Homo sapiens: one gene and its partners. The protein of the gene in region 2 interacts with the protein of the main gene of each other region in a pairwise test. Each region holds a gene or a part of one and is shown on either strand. Other genes may lie near its edges.

Region 1 (7,153 bases), on a different chromosome or scaffold from region 2:
CGCCCAGGCTGGTCTCAAACTCCTGGGCTCAAGCAATCCACCTGCCTCAGCCTCCCAAAGTGCTAGAATTACAGACGTGAGCCACTGTGCCCGGCCTAATTAATCTTACTGATCATTTAGCACATGACTCTACGGGGCGCTTACTTAGTAGGGACTCAGTAAATATTTTTTGAATGTTTATTCTGGCTACTTCTCCACTTTGCACAGTTGTTCCCTCTGCCTGACACCCTCTTCCCCAGCTATCCCCATGGCCCAATGTCACCTTAGTAGGGTGATCATCCCTGACTATTCTATTTAACACAGTAACACTGACCCTTCCCTCACTCCTTTTCCCTCTTTGTTATTCTGCAAATTGTTGTCATCAGCCGAAGGCTCACTTACTGATTGCCTGTCTCCTCTCACTAGAACATAAGTTCCACGAGGAAGGGCCTTTGTTTTGTTCACCGTTATACCTCCAGTGCCCACTGCACTGCCTGGCATATGGTACATGCTCAAAAAATATTCATTGAATTTAATGAATGACCTTTGTGAACATTCATCTTATTTTGTATAATTCTCTTAAGAACCGAACCCACAGCTAAGCAAGGTAGGCATGTGAAGCCCATCATCAGATAAGAACATTTGAGGTTTGAGAGTAGGGTGAAGCATTTTGTTCAAGTTCATAAACTTTTCTGTGACAGAGCAGAACGCAGAACTCAGCTGTCCTGATTCCTATTCTAGGACTCTCACACTACCCTCTACCGACTTCCAGCCATCCTCTAACTTCAGTCCCTCTGTCCCATCCTTATCCAGACCCTAAGAATTGAGGGGCCCAGGTCAAGAGTGCAAATAGGGGCTCACGCAGCCCATTTCACATTTGGCCATTTTGGCCATTTCACATCGATGACCAGATTTTCATCAGCAAGTTACATGCCAAGCAAGCAAACTATTAAATATGTCTGTTCTACCTTAACAAACGTATGTCTTCAGAATGGTTAGGCTGGTTCACAGGCAGGATTCGCAGACTTCCTGCAGTTGTGAGCAGAACATCGCAGCCAGGTTGCCATGTGAATATGGGCCATGCCCGATCTTCTCTTCCCATCCCTGGTCCTCTGCTTCATTCCTATAGGTTTCATGTGCGCATCTTTAGAGATGCCTCCTGCGTAAGTTTTGCCACTCCCTAGCAAACAACTACCCCGTGGGACCAGACACACCCTTGGTGCAGCCTTGGGAGAATGGACTTGAGGAAGAGGCCACATAGGCCTGAAGATGAGCCTGGGGTGAAATGGGCAGGATTCTGGGGTCCTGGGCACCTGAGCATGGGAAGATGGGCTGCTGGTGAGGGTGCTTCCTGGGCTTCACAGACTCTGTCCTGAGGAGAGAGGTGCAGTTTGAGAAGGCCAGAGTGGGGCCCGCTTCGTCTAGGTCTAAGGATAGTACTGAGCCTACCTCTCCCTGTCTCCAAACCAGATTGTAAGCCTATCGAGGACCCAGGTTAATTTTCCCCCTCCCCTGGAGGGTGTGTGGTTTAACTGGAGACGACAATTCCAGTTGGAGTTGAGCCTTATGGAAATAAACTAACCTCTCTGGCTTGTTTCTTTATCTATGAGAATTGGATGAGATGATCTCTAAAATCGATTTTAAAATCTTACACACACACACACATTTGCACACACTCCCCTACCTCCAAGGACCACTCATCCCCTCTGAGTCTGCAGAGTAACACCACCTACCAGCTGGACTGTCAGAGCCTGGTAGACATTTTCCCAGACATGGAGGCAGAATGCCTTAAATCCTAACAGAGGTAAGATTTTGTTTTATGCCTTCAGAGCTGGGAGACTAAGGGACCCTAGGGACCTCACTTTCCACGGACACTTTGGTGTCCATGAGTCATTTCTAGTATCTCAGGGTTCCAATTTTTATTTTTACTTCCAGCTGATCAATCTCTTAATGGCAGGGCAAACACTATTGTCTTTGAGTTTGCAGAGAATGGAGAAGGAGACTCCTTTCTTTTTTCTTTTCCTTTTTTTTTTTTTTTTTTTTTTGAGATGGAGTCTTGCTGTGGCACCCAGGCTGGAGTGCAGTGGCGTGATCTTGGTTTACTGTAACCTCCGCCTCCTGGGTTCAAGTGATCCTCCTGCCTCAGCCTCCTGAGTAGCTGGGATTACAAGCACGTGCCACCATGCCTGGGTAAATTTTTCTGTGTTTTTATTAGAGACGGGGTTTGCCATGTTGGCCAGGCTGGTCTTGAACTCCTGACCTCAGGTGATCTGCCTGCCTTGGCCTCCCAAAGTGCTGGGATTATAGGCGTGAGCCACCGCGCATGGCCGAGGGAGGCTTTTTTCTCTGACACCAACGGGTCTAGTGTAGATGGCAGCTTGCAGGAGGCTGAGGCCAAATCTGAAGATGGAACCTCTTCACGGGCGGAATGCATGCTCTGGCTCAAACCAACGATTGTCTACTGAGGGCTTACTGGGGCTATGAGAAATCCTAAGCAGGATAGCACCATATTTGAATTTCATATTAATTTATTGGAGGTGGGGTGGGGGCTGTGTGTGCAAAGCATAAATTCATAAAAGATAAAACAACACAACAGGACAAGACCATTCAAGAGTTGCACGAAGGCAGTGGTTTGTGGTCAAATGTGCTGTTATAGAGAGTTCAGAGAATAAAGATAAGTGTGTGAATAAGAGGTCCCAGATCTATGGCCATGGTGTCCTGGGACCAGACATATCTGGGCAGTTTCTCTTAGGTACTTACCTGGGTGTGCACGCAGAACCCTCTTTGGGAGACAGGAGCAGTTACTGTAATAAACATAGGGGCTGTATGATGGGGGGTTACAATAACGTGTAAAAACACCAGGAACATCAACAAAAGCTTTTTTTAACCTTTATTCTCATTTTCCTTGAAACTACCAGGTTTCAAGTACCCACCTGTAAGGACCAGGTGTGTACCTACAGAAGAGTGCCCCTGTCCTATTCTTAGGAAGAACTATTCGCCAAGGGCAAGGAGTCCAGAAGAGTTGGAGCTGCAAGGCTGGGCAGCCCCTTCAAGGGCTGGGCCTGGCAGGGGAACCCGACTGAATAGCCGCGAGGATCCCTCTGCCAGTGTAATGATTCACCTTTTCCGCTGTCTGCCATAGTTTTTCTGCACGAGATAGTGTCCCCCACACACACCGTTAATATCTGCTTGATGCAACAATGCCAGTGGGATGCAACGATTCAAAACTTCCAATTCCTCCTCCCTAGACCCTGAAGCCACGGGGCGTCTTCAGAGTGACGTGCCTGGCACACAGTAGGTACTTGACAGATGTCAACTCCCTTCTTCCCGTTCCTCATTCCCCCCGCGGACTCCAACCCTCAAACGCTCTCTGGGCATTCTCTCCACCTCTCAGGAGCGCCACTTTCCCTAAAACGGCCTGGCCTTGCGGGTCTCCCCAGCTCCACGCCCATTCGCTTCAGCAGCCGCCTGCTCAAGGCCTGCTAAGTGCAGGGTCCCGCGGGCCTCCCAGGCCCTGAGCGCAGGGTCGCTTCCCGAAGACCCGCAGAGGTGGCCGCACCTTCTTAAGGCAGGAAGGCGGGGGAGAGCTGCGTGCGCTCTGCTCGCCCCTGCCTTGCACGCTGAGCTCTAGCGCAGGAGCCCGACTTTGTCTGGCTTTGTCCCCTCCGCGGCCCCGAGGCTGTCCTGAGAGCGCGGCGCCCCACACACCTGCTGCCCGCAAGGAGTCGGCGGGAGAGGAGGAGCGAGGGAGGCGAGAGGACCCCTCCCCCGGCTTGCCGGCCTACCCTGATCCGGGCGCCCCGGGGAACGCGCGGCGGGACCCGGGGTTGGGTGCGGGTCGGGGCGGCACCGCCCGGCCCAGGCCCCCCGAGCCCCTCGCGCTCCCTCCGGAAGGCGGGTCCTGGGGGAGGGCTGGGCCGCGCCGCCTCGCCGCCCTTGCCGCCTCTGCCGCGCCGAGCCCCGCGCACGCTGCCCCGGCCGCCCCGCAGGCAGGCAGGCAGGCAGGCAGGCAGGCGTCCGGCCGGCCGGGAGGGGGTGCTCGCCGTCCCGCGCCCGGGCCCGCGCGTTGCCGGGCAGCGGCTCCGAGGCTCCGAAGGGGGCGGAGCGGCAAGGCGGGCGTGCGGCTGGCGCCCCTGTCCTCGGTTCCGGCCCGGCCCGCCCCCGCCTCTCCGGCCTCCCTCCGCGCCGGTGCGCGGCGCCCCGTCCCAGCCGCAGCCGCAGCGGCCGCCCCTCCCGGACCCGAGAGCCGCTGAGCCGCGAGGCCGGGCCGGGGCGCCGGCCGGGAATGCCGGGGGCGCGGCGCCGACGCCGAGGCGCGGCCATGGAGGGGAAGCCCCGCGCCGGGGTCGCGCTGGCCCCGGGGCCGAGCGGCCGACGGCCTTCCGCCCGCTGCGCCCGCCGCCGCCGCCCGGGGCTGCTGCTTCCTGGCCTCTGGCTGCTGCTGCTGGCCCGGCCGGCCTCGTGCGCCCCAGGTAAGCTCCGCCGAGACCCTCGGAACGCGGCCGCGACCCCGCCTGCCTTTATCGCTGCTGTTTTCAAAACCCCGGCTTTCCCCGCCCATCCTCTTTTATTCTCCAGCTCCCTCGCCGTCCTTTCTGGAAGATGCTTTGCCATTCTTCTGGGGCCCAACAAATAAAGGCACGGGGGAAATAAATAATTAAAACGAACAAGCGAGCGGCTTCTGGCCGGTCTTGCTAAGGGGTCTGCAAAGCTGTTCTCTTGTCCATGGAACCCGAAGCGGGTCTGGTGGCTTCATCTCAGAATGTGCCTGGTTTTTCCTGCAGAATGCAGGCACCGGCGTGCTTTTTTGTCAAGGCTGTATGATGTGGCATATCGAATGTTTTGAGATACTTTATTGTCGGGGCGAAGAGGTGGATTCGAGGTGTGCTTTAAAAGAGTATTGCATTACCGGGACAAGCCCAGCGTCCCCCAGATGCGGGCAGGCCGGCCGTGTCCCCCCGTACAGCAGGACACAAAGAACATTCAAAGAAAACCTCTTGGAAAGCGCCCTGGCCACGGATCTTTCCAGGGAAATAGCTATTGGTATTACTTCTGCAAGGCATTATTAGTACAATGGAGTGTGAAAATATTTTGATTCTTAAGTGTCTGGGCATGAAAGGAGTAAGGGCTGTTTTTATAACAGATGCAATTTAGTGACTGTTCATCAGTATGGAATGAAGAGGCATGATTTATGAAGAAGCATAAGGGTTTTGTTGTGGAAGAAATGATTTAATTCCTATTGCTTCTCCAAAATGTTTATTTGTCCACCCTGAGCCTGTACACAGGATGGTCTGGAAACCGTCTCTGAGCTGACACTGCAGGCCAGCGATTGCCCCTGCACAGGCACTTGACCACTTTGAGGCGGAAAAGGAAAGGTGGAAGGAGCAGCTAGGGGTGGAGAGCTGCTGCACACAGAACAAAAACCAGAAAGCCGTGAACGCTGCTCCGAATCCTCCTTTCTCGTGGGAGCAGGGCCAAAGGGCTACTCAGTGGCTGGGAGGAATTGGAACACATTTGAAGGTGTCCCTTGGACCTGTGAGAATTATAACCAGTGCCCTAGAGGGGATGGTACAATAGAAGCACAGGGAGGACTTCAGGGATCATGGAACAGGTCCACTCTGCTTACCAAAGAGGAAACTAAGGCAGAGAAGTGCCTTGCTCAAGGTCACAGTCATCACTTTCCCTGCCTCCCACCCCCGCTCTTGGCCCATAGACATATCCACACCTGAAGCCTCTGCAGAGATTTCCCATAGCTGGGTGGAACCAGGGTTGGGGTGACAGAATGAGTCTCTTTTAGGCAGTATACAGCTAGTGCAAACACCTTACTCTAACCTAGGACCTCCCGTCTCAGTCCTGCTCCTGCGAGTTCCAGCCCTGTGTGTCCAGAGGAGAAGAGATCATTGTCAAGGGTCTCTTGGCTTTAGTCAACAAAGAGAGCCCATCTGATACTCGTGGATTCATCTGTCATAAGACACAGCAGATAAATGGTTTCCATCTCCTGAGTGCTTTTTGTGTGCCAGATGTTGAATTTTATATACACGATCCAATCACGTTGTGAGTTAGGCATAGTTATCCCCATTTTACAGATGAGGAAACTAAGGCTTTGAGTTTAGGTTGGTTTGGCTTCAGACTCTATGACATGCTTCCTTTCTGTGCCTGATGGCTTCCCCATATGAATGTGGCCATCTGGGTGTACTGCAGAGGTTGTGGAGAATATAAGTGCTTCTGGTAACTTTAAAATAAATAGTGAAGCTGTTTGCACTGCCCATCCCTAACCTTCTCTTCTTTGGAAGTCCTTTCCTGCTTCCCCTCTACCCCCAATACAAATATTCAACCTGGAGACATGAAATTAATAATATTTCCATTCTAGACCTGACATCATGGAAAGAGACTTCATCCTTTCACTGGTTTGTATATTGGCTTCAGCCGCTGCCAGGCTCATAGACTAGGAACTAAGAAGTGGAGGGCACAGCCCCTGTGCTCCAGGATCCAGCTGGAAACACAGAGCAGTGAAGGAAGTACAAACCCTTGCACAGACCATTCCCGGACAGGAAAGGCAGGATTCCTTATGGATGACCTGCTGGAGGTGACCCCATCTACTTGAAGACTGTGAGGAACGATCTTGGTGGAGGGTGGCTTCCTGATGTAGCTAGGGTGTGTGTAGGGTGCCTGGGCGGTGCTGTTGATCCTGGGAAGAGGGTGCGTTGCAGTTGCTTGGGCTGCCCTCCCAGTCCTGAGTGTGGTATTTTCACCAGGAGATTTGGAATGTAGGAGAGCTTTGCTGAACACTGCTGTGGTGGTTGGTTCTCTTTCTAAGGAATAAGCAGTGGTAGTCAGAAAATGGCATGGCTTAGACCTGTTTTGGACTTCCTATGTGAGGCAGCATTCCCTTCCGTGGCTGTCTGAAAGCTATCTCCTCCTTCAGCTGGCTTCTCTTGTTAACTTTTGTTCAATAGAGTCCACCTTCCAGGTGGTCCCCTTATTACAGTCTTTGGTTAAATCTCTATGTTAAATCGATTTCTTGTCTATTTGTATTTCATTCAGCATTTTGAGTGTGTTTTTTTAAAAAAAAAATTTACAAGTTTGGTCTTAACCATTGACTGTTGTGGAAACAACTTGTAATGCTTTGGACTTACTTTTGAATGCATTGCTCTTAAGTGATTAGCCATCCACA
Region 2 (7,038 bases):
TAATCTGAGAGGCAGAGATGATAAAAGTTGAGTTTTCTGTGTGTAAACAGTAAGTTACTCATGGGTGATACGGTTCATGTTTACCTAAGTAGAAAGTCTAGGAATGTAAGGTCTCCCAGCATATATGTAACCAGTATTTTAGTAATAAAGAGAAGCAAGATTAAAGCCCAAATTTTTAATTTCCTTTATAGTCGTAGACTGGACTTTATAAAATTACTATCTTAAAACTCACCTGGATTGTTCGTATAAAGGCCACTGTTACCCGTTCTTCAAATTCATTCAGGGGAGTATAAAGGTTTAAAATTTTGACAATCTGTTGGGGATAAAAACGGAATTTAGCACAGAGCTAAATGAACATGAGACAACTTTTGAACTTTAAAGAATATGTGACATTGGTACAAGAGTATGATCCTCTTTAGACAAGGCCCACAACACAGATGGAGCTGGACTGACATTTACACTTGGAGCCTGCATCCAGGAAACTAGAGCCCACAGCTTTGTCAGGTGGATCTGAGCCCTCTCACCGAACTCATGTCTCCTGTAAACCCACCTGCCCCTCCCCACTATGCTCATTGGTATACACAATGAGGAGTTTAGAATGCAGTTGCCTGAAATCCTCAGCCTCATATCTACTAGTAATTTAAAGGTTTCTTCTGAAGAGTACTGGAGATCTTACCTTAGATGAGAAAGGTCTTGTTTAATACCTAACTACCCCCTGTCCCCCAACATTGTTTACAAATGAGTATTTGAACAGGAGATACTCTTTTGTCTGCCTACCACTGGTTTGGTGGAAGTAGACTGCCCAAATGCAATGCCAGCTGCATCTAGAAGGAAACTTACTTTAAGTGAAATGTATTTAAAGAGAAGAAAAATGTTTGAAGACTTTCTGGAAATGTTTACAGAAGGAAGCAGTTTTTTAAAGAGTTAGATATTTAATATTTTAATAGTAAGCAGAGGAGGTAAGGAAAGGTGTTCACTTTGCTATATTAAGATGTGTTTTTCTGTACTGAGTTTGGATTTTGTTATTTATCTTTCAGGGACTGGCAATGTGTCGGCAACTGAATCATGGTTATACATTTTTTAGGGAAAAGGAAAGTAACACTTAAATGCCCCTAAGTTCTTAATGACTTCATTTAAAACAATATAAATGAGTGTGAGTGAAAATATGACCATATTGCAATTAGTTTTAAAGAAAAGGTTTTTCTTACAGTTATATTTGTAAAGAAAGCAAATACCTGATGCTGCCAATTTCTGAAAATTTGTGGATTTCTATGTAAGAAACATTCCAGAATTCATTATATTTAAAGAAGTTTTTACCTAAACTTAACGTTTTGTGAGTTTGCTACCTTATCTTTTTAAGTGAGTAAGAGGGATAGAGAGTTACTAGAAAACAGTATCTGTGGCATCTTGTTTCACAGACCAAATGGTTTTTGGTTCATCTAGGAATATCCCATCAGCTGCACTTCAAAATTGTCTCATTAGGGGTATATAAAGGGTGGGAGTGCAACACTAACAAATAACCACCAACGAGAACAGACTTGGAATGGACTCAGGGCTTCCTTGGAATACCATGTTGACAGAGGTGCAAAGTGACTGTACCTGCTGGGTGCTGAGGGAGGTACACAGGGAGCAGATAGCCTCTGCGTCCTCCTGGGTTTTCTTCTTTAATTGCAGGAGCTGGGCTGCTTGGATCAGAGGTTCCATGGTCTGAACTGCTCCACTCTGGTGAAGGTTTCTTCCCCGAAGCCACTCCTCAAGCTGACTTATATTGTACCTTAGCCATAGGTAGAAAGCAAGCTATGTTAAGCCGGTCCTCCTAATTCACTGAGAAGGGGACACCTGTTGTGTTTTGCAGGCCCGCTGCAGCTAGTGCCATTATTTATCTCACACGGTTAAAAAGCATGGCAAGTGCCTTGCACTCAGGAACTATTTGTTGAATAAAGAATGAATAAATGAATGAGTGGGTACTTAAAATCAAGCAAAGATGAAATACCTGAAGTGTCTACATAAGTTAACAGGGAAAAACAGGCATTAAATATACTGAATTGTAAGTATTTATATTTAACATTCACAAATGTATTTATACTTCTATGTGAGCCTTCATGCCTCTTAACTCATTGAGTTTTCTCTCTGACCTATCTGCTTTGTATTCAGTCTTTAACTTAGAGTATGTCAACATCTTTAAGCTTTGAACTAATTTGTTTACCAAGTCAACCATCTCAGTGTTCGACGGATTTCACCAACAGGTAAAAAGGTGATGGATTTGAGTCACAGACTGATGGAGACAAGGACTGTCAATTAGATTTGGATTTCATTTTTAGAAACAGCAGTCTTGTGTTCTGATTCTAGCTGCAGTCAGTGAGGGCCCACTCTATCTGTGTTGTTGGGGGGTGCTCCTCCCTTACCTGAGTTGCATGCCTGTGCTCCAAGAGCAGACGTCCTTCCGCAAGAGCAGGTTGTTAAGAGTCACTGCGTTGATCATGTAGAAGAGCTGTTTGAATACCTGCAGGATGATCTCAGGGTCCAAGCCCTGGTCACACATGACTGTATGAAAGGCATTCATCTGGCGGATGATAGCTTCCAGGCAGTATGAGTTATCCCCATCTGCCATGCTGGAGGAGCGCTTCCGGTAGCCGGTGGGCTTCACACCAGATAGACCCTGAATGCTCTCATTTTCCAACATGGCAGAAACTGAAATAAAAGCACAGTTAGAGAAGCTTGCATTCCCCACTAACAATGCAAAGATTGGACCACTCAAATCATTTAGTGCTCCGGGCTTTAGCAATGATACCATCCAGAGGTGTGCAATGTTGACATGCTTAGGAACTTATAACATTTGGCAAAAAATTTCTAATGTGTTGATTTCTGTATGGAATAAAACAGCTGTGGACAGCATTTTCATTTAATTTACTGGCAATTAGACAAAGATGATGGGCATGTACCAGCTCGATTTGGTATCGCCTGTGCTGAAGTCCACAGTTTGAGAATTGAGCAACCTGGGTGTCATCCTCGTCCAGCCACTGACTATGTAAATAAGAGCTTCATTGGTCCGTCATACTTACTAAGCAGCCATTACCTATGCACCAGGGGCTTTATGTTCAGTATCTCTTTCAATCTTCCAACAACTCTATAAAGTACTACCCATTTTTATGAGGAAGTTGAGGTATAAAGCGGTTAAATAACTTGTCTGAGGTCACACTGATAGGGAGTGGCAGGGCCAGGATTTAAACCCAAGTCTGTCTGACTCCAGAACTGCTGCTATTAACCTTCACATTATTCTGAGTATCTCCAGCTTGATATGTCAGTTCTCCCTCTGTCTGGTGCCTTATAAAAAGATTTCCAGACAGGAAGGAGGGTTTGGAATGAACCTCATTTCAAGTAATGTATTTCTAGATTGGTCCTTCTTGGGATTCACTCATAACCTACTTGTGTTGTAAGAACCTGGGGAAAGCATTATGAATAGGTCCAGGTACACTTTCCTTCCCAGCCTTTGCAGAGCACAGTGAGTAATGCATCTACACATAATTTTTCTTCCGATTGAAAATGTAACTGCTCTCATTTCTCAATTCTGATTTCATGTTCAGTGCCCAAGTACACTGCTTGGTTCAAAGCAAGTGTCTAATAAATACTGATGCATCGTGCCGACTGCTGTGTCCTTTCGCATGAACACTCCTGCTTTTTTCCATGAATCAAGTTCATAATAGGTTAAGAGGGTTATGCTTTTTCACTGTATATGCATTTGTACCTTTTGAGTTTACATTTATTATGTATTAAAATTTGGGAAAAAATACAACATATTACAGAAAAAGAGATAAAGGGAAAGTCATCTATGCCTCTTGCACTGTGTCAAATACTTTCACAGCTTTTTAAGCATGATGTGCACACCTCAGTTCTGCCTTCACTGGAAGGTTCTGGCTTTCTGGAGGTCATGGCTAAGATATCTGGTTCCCGAAAGGCAGAGGGTGCTGACCACGCCTTCCCCTCATTTCAGACACCATGATGAGTGATGTAGCTCTCCTGCTGCCAGCTTACCTATCATCGGCTGTAACACGCCCTCGGCAATTTTAATGAGCTGCTGGTAGATCTGAATGGAAAGGTCACTCAGCACCTGACGGTATTCGGTGAGGTCAAAATTCTTAAGACAGTGTTCATTCTGCTTTGCAGTGTTCTGAGTCATGAAGCCCTGCAGAGGGAGAGGCGTGCACTACTGAGTTCTCTGGTCTGCTGGGCCCAGCACAACTTCCAGGGCTCTGGTAACTTTAGTCATCTATTTGGTGGGCAGGGGGCCTACTCAGGCCCTCCCTATGTAGATGATGTTTTACAAAAGCCTGTCAGTTCTTTGAGGCCTCATTGATGACCCTTGAACTTGAAGGATGTAGAAAAACTCAACATGAGAGAGAAAGCCTGAATCGCTCAGTCCAAATCCCTGAGGCGAAGTGATTTCCCTACGGTAGCAAAACCTAGGTTGGTACCAGGTCCAGAGAAAGGGATCCCTGCTTTTTCCCTTCATCCAGCGCTTTCCTCAATATATCAGGTCCCCCTAAAATGTTAGATGATGTGCAGCCTCTAAAGGAGTGTGGCCATGGGCCAGATTATACGCTTGTATGAGGAGAAATTTTATACAGATTCTATCACTGGTTATCAGAATTAATAGATGAACTAAAGTGATTTCATAGCTACCGCACTGTGTCCTCTTAGCTTTCTGTATTAATCAGATGAAATCACATGTAAGTTAAGGGAACTGCTGATATCAGAAGGGCTCATGTGACCAATGTCCTTTTCATTCAGGCCTAGGGAAACCAGTATCTGCCAAAAAGATTAGTGCTCCCAAAAGGGCAACCATCTTCAGCAAGGCCTGTTGTACTGTGTCAAATACAAAGCCATCTTAATATGAAAAAAAGCAGGCAGAAAAGGGGATAATTGTAATGATGAAGATAGAGTCAATCATTCTTCCTTGTTATTTGGACTACACGGATCTGGTCATGCTGTGGTTCAGCTCTTGACCCAGAGAATATGAGCACATGTAACCACAACCTAATGTAATGGAGTTCTAGGTCCTGCCCTAGCCTTATATAACCTCCCATTTAGAATGTGTATAACATTGGGTAAAGTGATGGACCTCAATGAAATAACATTACATGTAGTTCTATGCTTCAAGTAAATGCTTGGATATTATGATTTTGTAACAGAAGTCATGGGGTTTGAAATGGCTATTTCTTTAACCTTTGGCCCATCTCTTTTATAATAAAAGCAGGCCATCAAATGAAGTGCTGGTTCTTAGGAGAGAGATGGCGTCAAGCCAACTGCAAAGAAGGTAAGACTGAAAGGAAGGGCATATCCTTTTACTAACCCAGGGAGAAGAGTCTGTCAAAATTGGTTCTGGCACAAAAGATGGAATAAAGCTTTAAAAATGGTCGCACTATTTTGGTTTACACTATGTCTTGACCTTGGGAAGGGTGGATGGTGAGATATGTGAAAGGAAGGGGAAGAAAAGTTGGAAGACCTACAGGAACCTGTGAGCGGGCATATCTGGAACAAGCTGGGATTCTCACCAGAGAAACTAGAATGGAAACAAGCCACATATTACTAGGTCATTGGGCAGAGTGCAGAGCATGGGAGAAGTTCTTTCAGGGACCAAAGCTAGGAATGTGAGTTCCAGAAAAAGCTGGGCCTTACAGGTCCGGTGTGGATTGTGAAGTGATGGGGTTAGTAGTTGGGCCTCAGGTCAAGGAATCCAATTTGGATAAATGCATGGAGCTGGGCCTCCAGGTCAGTTTGCACACACGTAGTTCTGATTATGGTGTGCCTCTGTTCTTGTGGCCATCTTTGTCTATCTTGAAATGGACAGATTAATCAGTTGGCTTAGGAGACAGGGTGACCCACTAGGCAACTGAGCTCCCTGCCAGTATCCACTGCAGTGGGGCTTCTAGAGCTGATACAGAAATGTCAGGTTACAAGAGTTTCATGGAGACTCCCAGGGCCTCTATTGATCATGGGTTATGCAGACTCTACTTACATAACCCAGGAGTGCTTTTTGGGGCCCCTTGGGCTCATCAAGGCCTCCTAGAGGCAGGTCTCCTGTGGCTGGCCTTATTGCTGCTTCCAGCCACGAGGCATGATAAGGTGTGCCCACGGTCTGAGGTCCCCAAGGGTGCTCCAAAGACCCCACTGACCTCTGAGGGTATACAAAGCACTTCTCAACCACATTTGGATGAAGCAGGAATGCCTCCTGGGTGCCTGGCTCCCCACTCACCTCATCCCCGCTGTACTGCTTCAGACAGTGAAGAAGGCGGCAGGTGTTGGATAACCAGAATGACGTCATCTCAAAGTCATCATTGTGCTTCTGTGAAAAGAAAAGGACATCCTCAGCTCTAAGTGGCTCCCATCTGGTGAAATGCTTCCTCGGTACCTCTTTCCCCACATTTCCTACCCTTACCTAGTGTTCCTGAGCAGCCCTGAGGCTGGGCAGGGCACTTGCCAGTCACGGGGTTGAGACCCATTGCTGAGAGGCTGTGTGAGTGTTCCTCTACCACCAGGGATGGTGCACAGAACCCCCACCTTGGTCTCCTGATCAGTGGTGCACATACAGGGACACACATAAAGGACAGGCTGCCTTCCATGGCTGAAGAATGAATGCAAAGCTGAGTGACAGATGAGGCTCTGCCCCAACAGCCCCGGGCTCTCGTCTAACCGCCTGGGCTAGCTGGCTCTGTTTCTGAACTGCCAGTTATCCAACACAAGGGATGCTGAAGAGCATAACAGCAAAATAGTTTGGTGTCCCATTTATCTAGATGTCAGATGCATCATGGCTTTAACTCTCTAGAAAATGGCTACAAACCCTAACTAGGTGAAAAAGCCTGCTCAGCAACCCAAACAGCTATGAGACAGCTGCTGCATTAAAGCTGATGACTTCACGCAGCTCATTCTGTCAAGTAAGCGTTATCATTATTTAAATGACAGAGTGGTATGAGGTACGACCAAAAGAAAAAAAAAAAAAAAGAAATGAGGTTGAATAGAAAGTGACTGCTGGGGCTGGGA
Region 3 (7,038 bases), on a different chromosome or scaffold from region 2:
CCAGAGATACTGCTTCCCTGCCAGCCCTGCTCTTTGAGATTCCAGCTCCACTGCCCACTCTCCTTTATCAACTGGAAATGGCCTCAGTTTTCCTGTCCATTCAAGTTCTTCTGTCAGCCTGGGGACAACCACCCTCTTGTGCCTGTTGGTTCTTAACTGTTTCTTCAGGGTTGTCCCCCATTCCACCTCAGTAACACTCCCTCCCAACCATGCCCTGAATCTTATAATCCAGAATCTTATCTGTAGTCATAAACGCCAACGTTCCACTCCTGGCTCCCGTTACCCCACTCCCATTACACCACTTTCGATACAATATAGATATCTAGCCCCTTTGACTGCTCCCTCTTTTCCCAGTCACCAGCTGCGTCCTGGCCTCCCTGTCTTTCCTGCCCATCCTGGACCCTGTGGCTGACCGACTGGCTCCCCTGCAGTTCCTTCACATCTTTATCCTTTGCAAAACCCATGCAATAGAAGCTCAATGTTGGATCAGAGCTGAAATTGGATGTCTCTGCACTTTCTCCTGTGCCCAGATCACTGAGCACTCCTGGAGAAAATCTGGCTGAGAAATTGTAATAACAGTAGCTACCATGTATTGATTGCTTACTGTTTGCCAGGGACTGGCTAAGTGATTTATACATACTGATTTCCTTAATCCCTGCAACAGATACTTTATTAACTTCATTTTATTTTTTTATTTTAATTTTTTAATGTAACTTTTCATTTTAATTTTTTTTGGTTTGTTTTTTGTTTTTGTTTTTGTTTTTTTGAGACAGAGTCTCTCTCTGTCACCCAGGCTGGAGTGCAGTGGCGCCATCTTGGCTCACTGCAATCTCTGCCTCCTGGGTTCAAGTGATTCTCCTGCCTCAGCCTCCCAAGTAGCTGGGACTACAGGCGCACGCCACCACATCCGGTTAATTTTTGCATTTTTAGTAGAGATGGGGTTTCACCATGTTGGCCAGGCTGGTCTCGAACTCCTGACCTTGTGATCTGCCCGCCTCAGCCTCCCAAAGTTCTGGGATTCCAGGCGTGAGTCACCGTGCCCAGCTTGTTTCAATTTTTTAAATTTTATTTTTTTTTTAGAGATGAGTGTCTTGCTATATTGCCCAAACTGGACTTGAACTCCTGGGCTCAAGTGATCCTCCTGCCTCAGCCTCCTGAGTAGCTGGGATTACAGGTGCAGGCTACCACACCCAGGTATCCCCATATTAGAGAGGAGGAAACTAAGGTTCAAAGTCAGTAAATAATTAAGAAATATCTCTGGCCAGGTGCAGTTGCTCATGCCTGTAATCCCAGCACTTTGGGAGGCCAAGGTGGGAGGATCACTTGAGCCTAGGAGTTCCAGAGTAGCTTGGGAAACAACATAGTGAGATGCAGTCTCTAAAAAAGAATTTAAAAATTAGCTGGGTGTGGTGGCATGCACCTGTAGTTCTAGCTAATCGGGAGGCTGAGGTGGGAGGATCATTTGAGCCTGGGAGGTGGAGGCTGCAGTGAGCCATGATCACATCACTGCACTCTAGCCTGGGTGACAGAGAGAGGCTCTATCTTAAATTAAATAAACAAATAAAAAAAAAGAAATATTTCCAAGGCTACACAGTAAGTAAATAGCTGAGATCTGAATCCAGTTTTCACTGCAGAGCCTTCACTGTCAACTAGTATTCATTCATGTATCCCTTGGTCCCTGCTCTCAGAGGATGTTCTAGTGGGCAGTGACTGACAGTAAGCAATCAAGAAAACGAGAGCTGCAGCTTGTATTAATGTTTTACAGGATATAAACAGAGAGAAGTAGGGGTGTTTGGGGCAAGAACTATTCTATATAGTCATCAAGGAAGGCTTCCCTGAGGAGGTGACATTTGACCTGAGTTCTGAGGATAAGAAGGAGACAGATTGTTCCAGGCAATAGAAAAATCTGTGCAAAGGCCTTGAGGAAGAAGTAGACAGGACATGTTCAGATACCAGAAAAGAAACCAGTGTGGCCAAGTGAGGAGTAAAGTGGGATGAGGTGAAATTGGAGAGAATAAGGGCAGTTTAAGGGGGAGCTTGTAGGTTTTCAGAAAGTGTTTGGATTTTATTTTAAGTGCAATGGGAAACCATTGGAGTTTTTAAAAATATATATATACAGGGAAATAATGTAATGTAAAAAGTTCACCCTAGCTGTTATGGAGAGAATGGATTATAAAGGAGCAAGAGTGGAAACAGAGACCAGTTAGGAAGCTATCGTGAGCCAGGTACACTTGACAAATAGGAAGGGGATATTGCTGAATTAGAAGGTGTTTTGCATGGGGAAACACTAGATTCAGTGAGCTTGGAAGAAAGCTGCTGAAGAATAGAGTAGAATGGTTGAAATGCAGTGATAGTTGATGAGAAGTGGGTGTTAGTGGGAGCATGGGAAATGGGGGAAAAGATCACTGGGGGTGAGAAGGTCAAGGAATTAAGAAATCACAATGGGGGATGGATGTTAGTGCCACTGAGAATGATGGCAGAGTGGTGCGGGGGGTAATGGAAGAAGAGAGTGAGCCAAGAGAAAGATGTCCACAATTGGAAGTGGGGGCAACCATTAGGTTAGCAGAGACAACAATAAGGAGGAGTGATAGAGATAGAAGGCATGAGCTTCAAAGGAGCTAGAGTTGAATAGTTCAGAAATGTTCCAGTTGGGAAGAGGGAGGGCTCAAGCCCACCTTCTGGCCCTAAGGAGTGTGGAGTATGAGACAGAAACCACTCTACTTGAGAGGACTGCAAGGAAAAGTAAGTCACAATTAAATAAGTTACACTGGGCATGGTGGCTCATGCCTGTAATCCCAGCACTTTGGGAGGCCGAGACGGGCAGATCACCTGAGGTCAGGAGTTTGAGACCAGCCTGGCCAACATGACAAAACCCCATCTCTACTAAAAATACAAAAATTAGCCAGGCGTGATGGTGTGAGCCTATAATCCCAGCTGCTCGGGAGGCTGAGGCAAGAGAATCGCTTGAACCCGGGAGGTGGAGGTTGCAGTGAGCCAAGATTGTGCTACTGCACTCACACCTGGGTGACAGAGCAGGACTCCGTCTCAAAAAAAAAAAAAAAAAAAAAAAAAGCCACCAAAAAAACAAAAACAAAGAAAACACAATTAAATAAGTTAATACTTGTGAAGCACTTAGAATCATGCCTGGCACATAGTGTTTGTCAGATTTTAATTAAGATCCTAAGTTATAGGAAACATTAAGAGTTGAGATTGAGGATATGGGAGAGTTTGCATAATGCAGATCTTCACTCCACAAATTTGAGGTCCCCAAATACAGCTGCCTTCAGTTCTGATGTCTGTTTCTAGTAAGTGTCCTCTGCTCTCCCATCACTGACTAATCTGAGCCATCATCAGGCCCCTGAATCCTCCATCCTTCACTCTCCTATGTCCCTAGTGCCTCTCTATATCCTCCTCTCCTTTCCTCCTTCCCTCCATTCAGAGACTGACGTCCAGTCCTCCTCTTCAGGCCAATCCGAGGCACTCCCCAATCCTCAAGATCTTCTCCTCTCAGTTTTGTAGTCTCTTCCCCCTCTCCTTCTCTCCTGACTCCTCCATTCATAAACATGCTCAAAACTCCCATGCCAAACAGGTAAAAACTCTTTCTAGCACCATCCAACCCCTCAACCAGCTCCTCATTGGAACTTTCAAGCTCCCCTTCACTCAACTTCCAGCAGTCAAGCTTTCCTTCTCCTGCCACTCCCTCCCTGTTTTCCCTACAGACAAAGTACCCTCACATTTGCCAAATTCAGTGGACATTTTCCTGTCCTTACCTTACCCAACTCGTCAGCTGCTTTTAACGCTGATGACTACTCATTCCCTCCTGGAAATGTACCACTCAGTTTTCTGCCCTAACACAGCTGCTCTTCCTGCCTCTCGGCCTGGTCTTCTTTGTTGTCCTCATTCAGTTTTTGCTAAGTGCTCTGTCCCTCTCTCTTATCACTGTCTATGCTTTCTTGTCTGATCTCATCCTCTCCCAGTGCTACCGAAGCCATCTAAATGTTGATGGCATGCCCATCTCTTGTCTCTAACCTTCATTCTCCTGTCTACTGGTGACCTCAACCTGGGTGTTTATTGTTACAGTAAATTCAACCAGGACAAGGCTGAACTTTCCTATAGCTACTCCTCTTTCTATGTTTCTCATCTTAGTGAATGTCACCACTATCCACTCAGTTATCAAAGCTAGGAATTTGGAAGTCAGCGAAGACTCATCATCTCTCTTGCTCCCCATATCTAATCAGACAACACCTCCCACCTTCCCTCCTTCTTAAACACTTCTCAAATTTATTTCCACCTCATAGTCTACATTACTATTGCCTAAATCCAGGTCTTCTTCACTTCCTACCTAGATGATTGTAAGAGTATGCTGGCTAAGCACATACTTTGCATTTGAAGACAGGCTTCAGCACCTACTGCTGTTGTTACCTTGGGCCACTTGCCCTTTCTCCTGCTAACAGAAACGTAATCAGAAAGCATGGCACCTGGCACATATGCACTTAATAAATGGTAACTAGCTGGTGATGCCACTGCCCTCGCCCCCCAACCCCATCTGCTGTCTCATTCCCTTTAAATTCACTCCCCACACAGAGGGGGTGAAGAGGAGCTTGGTAAAATATAAACCTGGCTATACCACTCTCTTGCAGCTTCCTATTGCTGGCAGGATAACTTCTAAGCTCCTTGACTTCTGTCACCATTCCTTGCCTTGGACTTTGTCTCTAGCCAGCCACATCAAACTGCTTACAGTTGCTTATTCATACTATGCTGCTTCTTGCTGCCTTCTGTATCTGGACTACCCTTCCCCCTCTGCCTGCACCATTCTTTGGTCAGGCTAACAATTATTTATCCTTGAAGATTTAGTTTGCATCAACTCTCTGAAGACTTTCCTGGACACCCTCTCCACCTGCTTGAGCCAGATGCATTTCCTTATCACTTTCTATCATTCCTTATATTAATAATAAGTAATACAAGTAGCCTACCATATATAGTGCTATTATGAGTCAGGCATTTTACATTTAATCCTCTTCAAATATAAGTAAGTACTTTACATGTAATCCTCTAACACTCTGTGAAGTCTGTACTTCTCCATCTTACAAAGGAAGAGTCCTTGGCTTGTCAAAGTTATGTAACTTGTCAGGGGTCATACAGTATAACAGGTGACCAACGGGGTGTTGGGCCTGGGCAGCCTAGCTCCAGGACCCATTCCCTTAATCATCATGCTATTTACTTCTGTACTATTCCTGTGACTTTTTTCTCTGTAGATGGGAAGTATTTTAAGGGTAGGCACTGTGCTTTATCTTTTTGTCCCCAGGGCTTGGCATAAATTTGGCAAGAGTAGACAGTAGTGTTAATGAGTTAAAGAAGTTGGGCAGGGGGTGCCTAGTTGCACATTCCTATGAGAAGCATTTGTAAACACCTGTGAAAGGTGAGCCTGTGTGCACACTGTGAGGAATGTGGATAGTCTGCTCTTCTGAGAGGGGTCGGGGTGTGTTCCTACTCAGTTGTAAGGGGCAAGGCCATTATACCTGCTGGCAGATGAGATGTGTCAAGCAGAGAGGTTTTAAAATGAAGTGTAATGGCACACCTGTGAGGGAAGGGGTTGGCACCCATGGGAAGTATAAGGAAGGGTGCACTTATGCCACCCCACCCACTCTGTTCTTTGACTCTCCTTCCTGGACAGATGTCTCCAAAACTATATCCCTGCCCAGAGCCTGACGCTATCCTGTCCAGTATGCCGGCAGACGTCCATCCTCCCAGAGCAGGGCGTCTCGGCACTGCAGAACAACTTCTTCATCAGCAGCCTCATGGAGGCAATGCAGCAGGCACCTGATGGGGCCCACGACCCGGAGGACCCCCACCCCCTCAGTGTAGTGGCTGGCCGCCCTCTCTCCTGCCCCAACCATGAAGGCAAGGTGGGCCCAAGCGAGGCCCAGTGAGGCCGGGACTTGGGGTGGGAGGAGGAGGAGAGGCATTGGGGGGTGCCGAGTGGCTGGGTGACAGGGTACTGCTCTGGATTAGTGGTCCAGGTAGGGGGTGCACTTAGAAGGTGAGGGGCAGGGAGGGCAGGTGGGGAGGGGACAAAGAAGTGTGATGTCTAGCCATTACCCGACTGGAGTCCTTGTACCGCAGACGATGGAGTTTTACTGTGAGGCCTGTGAGACGGCCATGTGTGGTGAGTGCCGCGCCGGGGAGCATCGTGAGCATGGCACAGTGCTGCTGAGGGATGTGGTGGAGCAGCACAAGGCGGCCCTGCAGCGCCAGCTCGAGGCTGTGCGTGGCCGGTAGGCACTGGGCAGGGTCCTGGGCTGGTGGGGCCACAGGGATGGTGTCTTAGCTCGGGCGGGGAGGGGAATAAAGGGTCTGGGAAGGGCAGAGATGGAAGTCTCAGGGAGGTCTCAGGAAGGAGATCTCCATGAGGGCAGCAGTAGGTTCCCCAGGGAGAAGGGAAAGTTCGGCAAAGCCACCCTCAGCAACTCTGGAATGAGATATTCCCCCTCCAGATTGCCACAGCTGTCCGCAGCAATTGCCTTAGTCGGGGGCATCAGCCAGCAGCTGCAGGAGCGCAAGGCAGAGGCCCTGGCCCAGATCAGTGCAGCGTTCGAGGACCTGGAGCAAGCACTGCAGCAGCGCAAGCAGGCTCTGGTCAGCGACCTGGAGACCATTTGTGGGGCCAAACAGAAGGTGTGTCTTGTGTTCACCCTTTCCTACCATCGTCCATTGTGATGGTGTTATTGCCTCCATTGTTCCTCTGTCTTCCACACCAGCTCCCCATTCCCCAGCCTAGATATTCTGCCTCCTGACATGCCCTCGGTAGGTGCTGTGGGCATCTGTGTCCTCTGTCCACAGGCACCCTCTTGTATTTTATGCCACAGTGCTACAACTTCAGTAATCACAGAGACTCCCCCTGTGCCAGTCTGCTCACCCACTCCTCCCCTACCCCTCATCAGGTGTTGCAAAGCCAGCTGGACACACTGCGCCAGGGTCAGGAACACATCGGCAGTAGCTGCAGCTTTGCAGAGCAGGCACTGCGCCTGGGCTCGGCCC

What was found. Proteins that work in one complex are often made in the same cells at the same time.
Region 1: the proteins of MYO5B (region 2) and KIAA1549 interact in a two-hybrid assay, tested with the Homo sapiens proteins (one study listed by BioGRID and IntAct).
Region 3: the proteins of MYO5B (region 2) and TRIM3 interact in binary tests that used the Homo sapiens proteins (3 or more experiments, as listed by UniProt).

What each region holds. Positions count from the first base shown.
Region 1 is NC_000007.14:138,978,381-138,985,533, reverse strand, and holds the start of KIAA1549 (UPF0606 protein KIAA1549), read left to right. Parts: upstream 1-4,144; 5' UTR 4,145-4,264; coding exon 4,265-4,451; intron 4,452-7,153. UniProt on the Homo sapiens protein: May play a role in photoreceptor function.
Region 2 is NC_000018.10:49,835,112-49,842,149, forward strand, and holds part of MYO5B (unconventional myosin-Vb), read right to left. Parts: intron 6,344-7,038; coding exon 6,254-6,343; intron 5,315-6,253; exon of another isoform or gene 5,252-5,314; intron 4,254-5,251; exon of another isoform or gene 4,184-4,253; coding exon 4,033-4,183; intron 2,692-4,032; coding exon 2,406-2,691; intron 1,775-2,405; coding exon 1,600-1,774; intron 314-1,599; coding exon 233-313; intron 1-232. UniProt on the Homo sapiens protein: May be involved in vesicular trafficking via its association with the CART complex. The CART complex is necessary for efficient transferrin receptor recycling but not for EGFR degradation.
Region 3 is NC_000011.10:6,456,933-6,463,970, reverse strand, and holds part of TRIM3 (tripartite motif-containing protein 3), read left to right. Parts: intron 1-5,674; coding exon 5,675-5,906; intron 5,907-6,123; coding exon 6,124-6,275; intron 6,276-6,494; coding exon 6,495-6,675; intron 6,676-6,941; coding exon 6,942-7,038.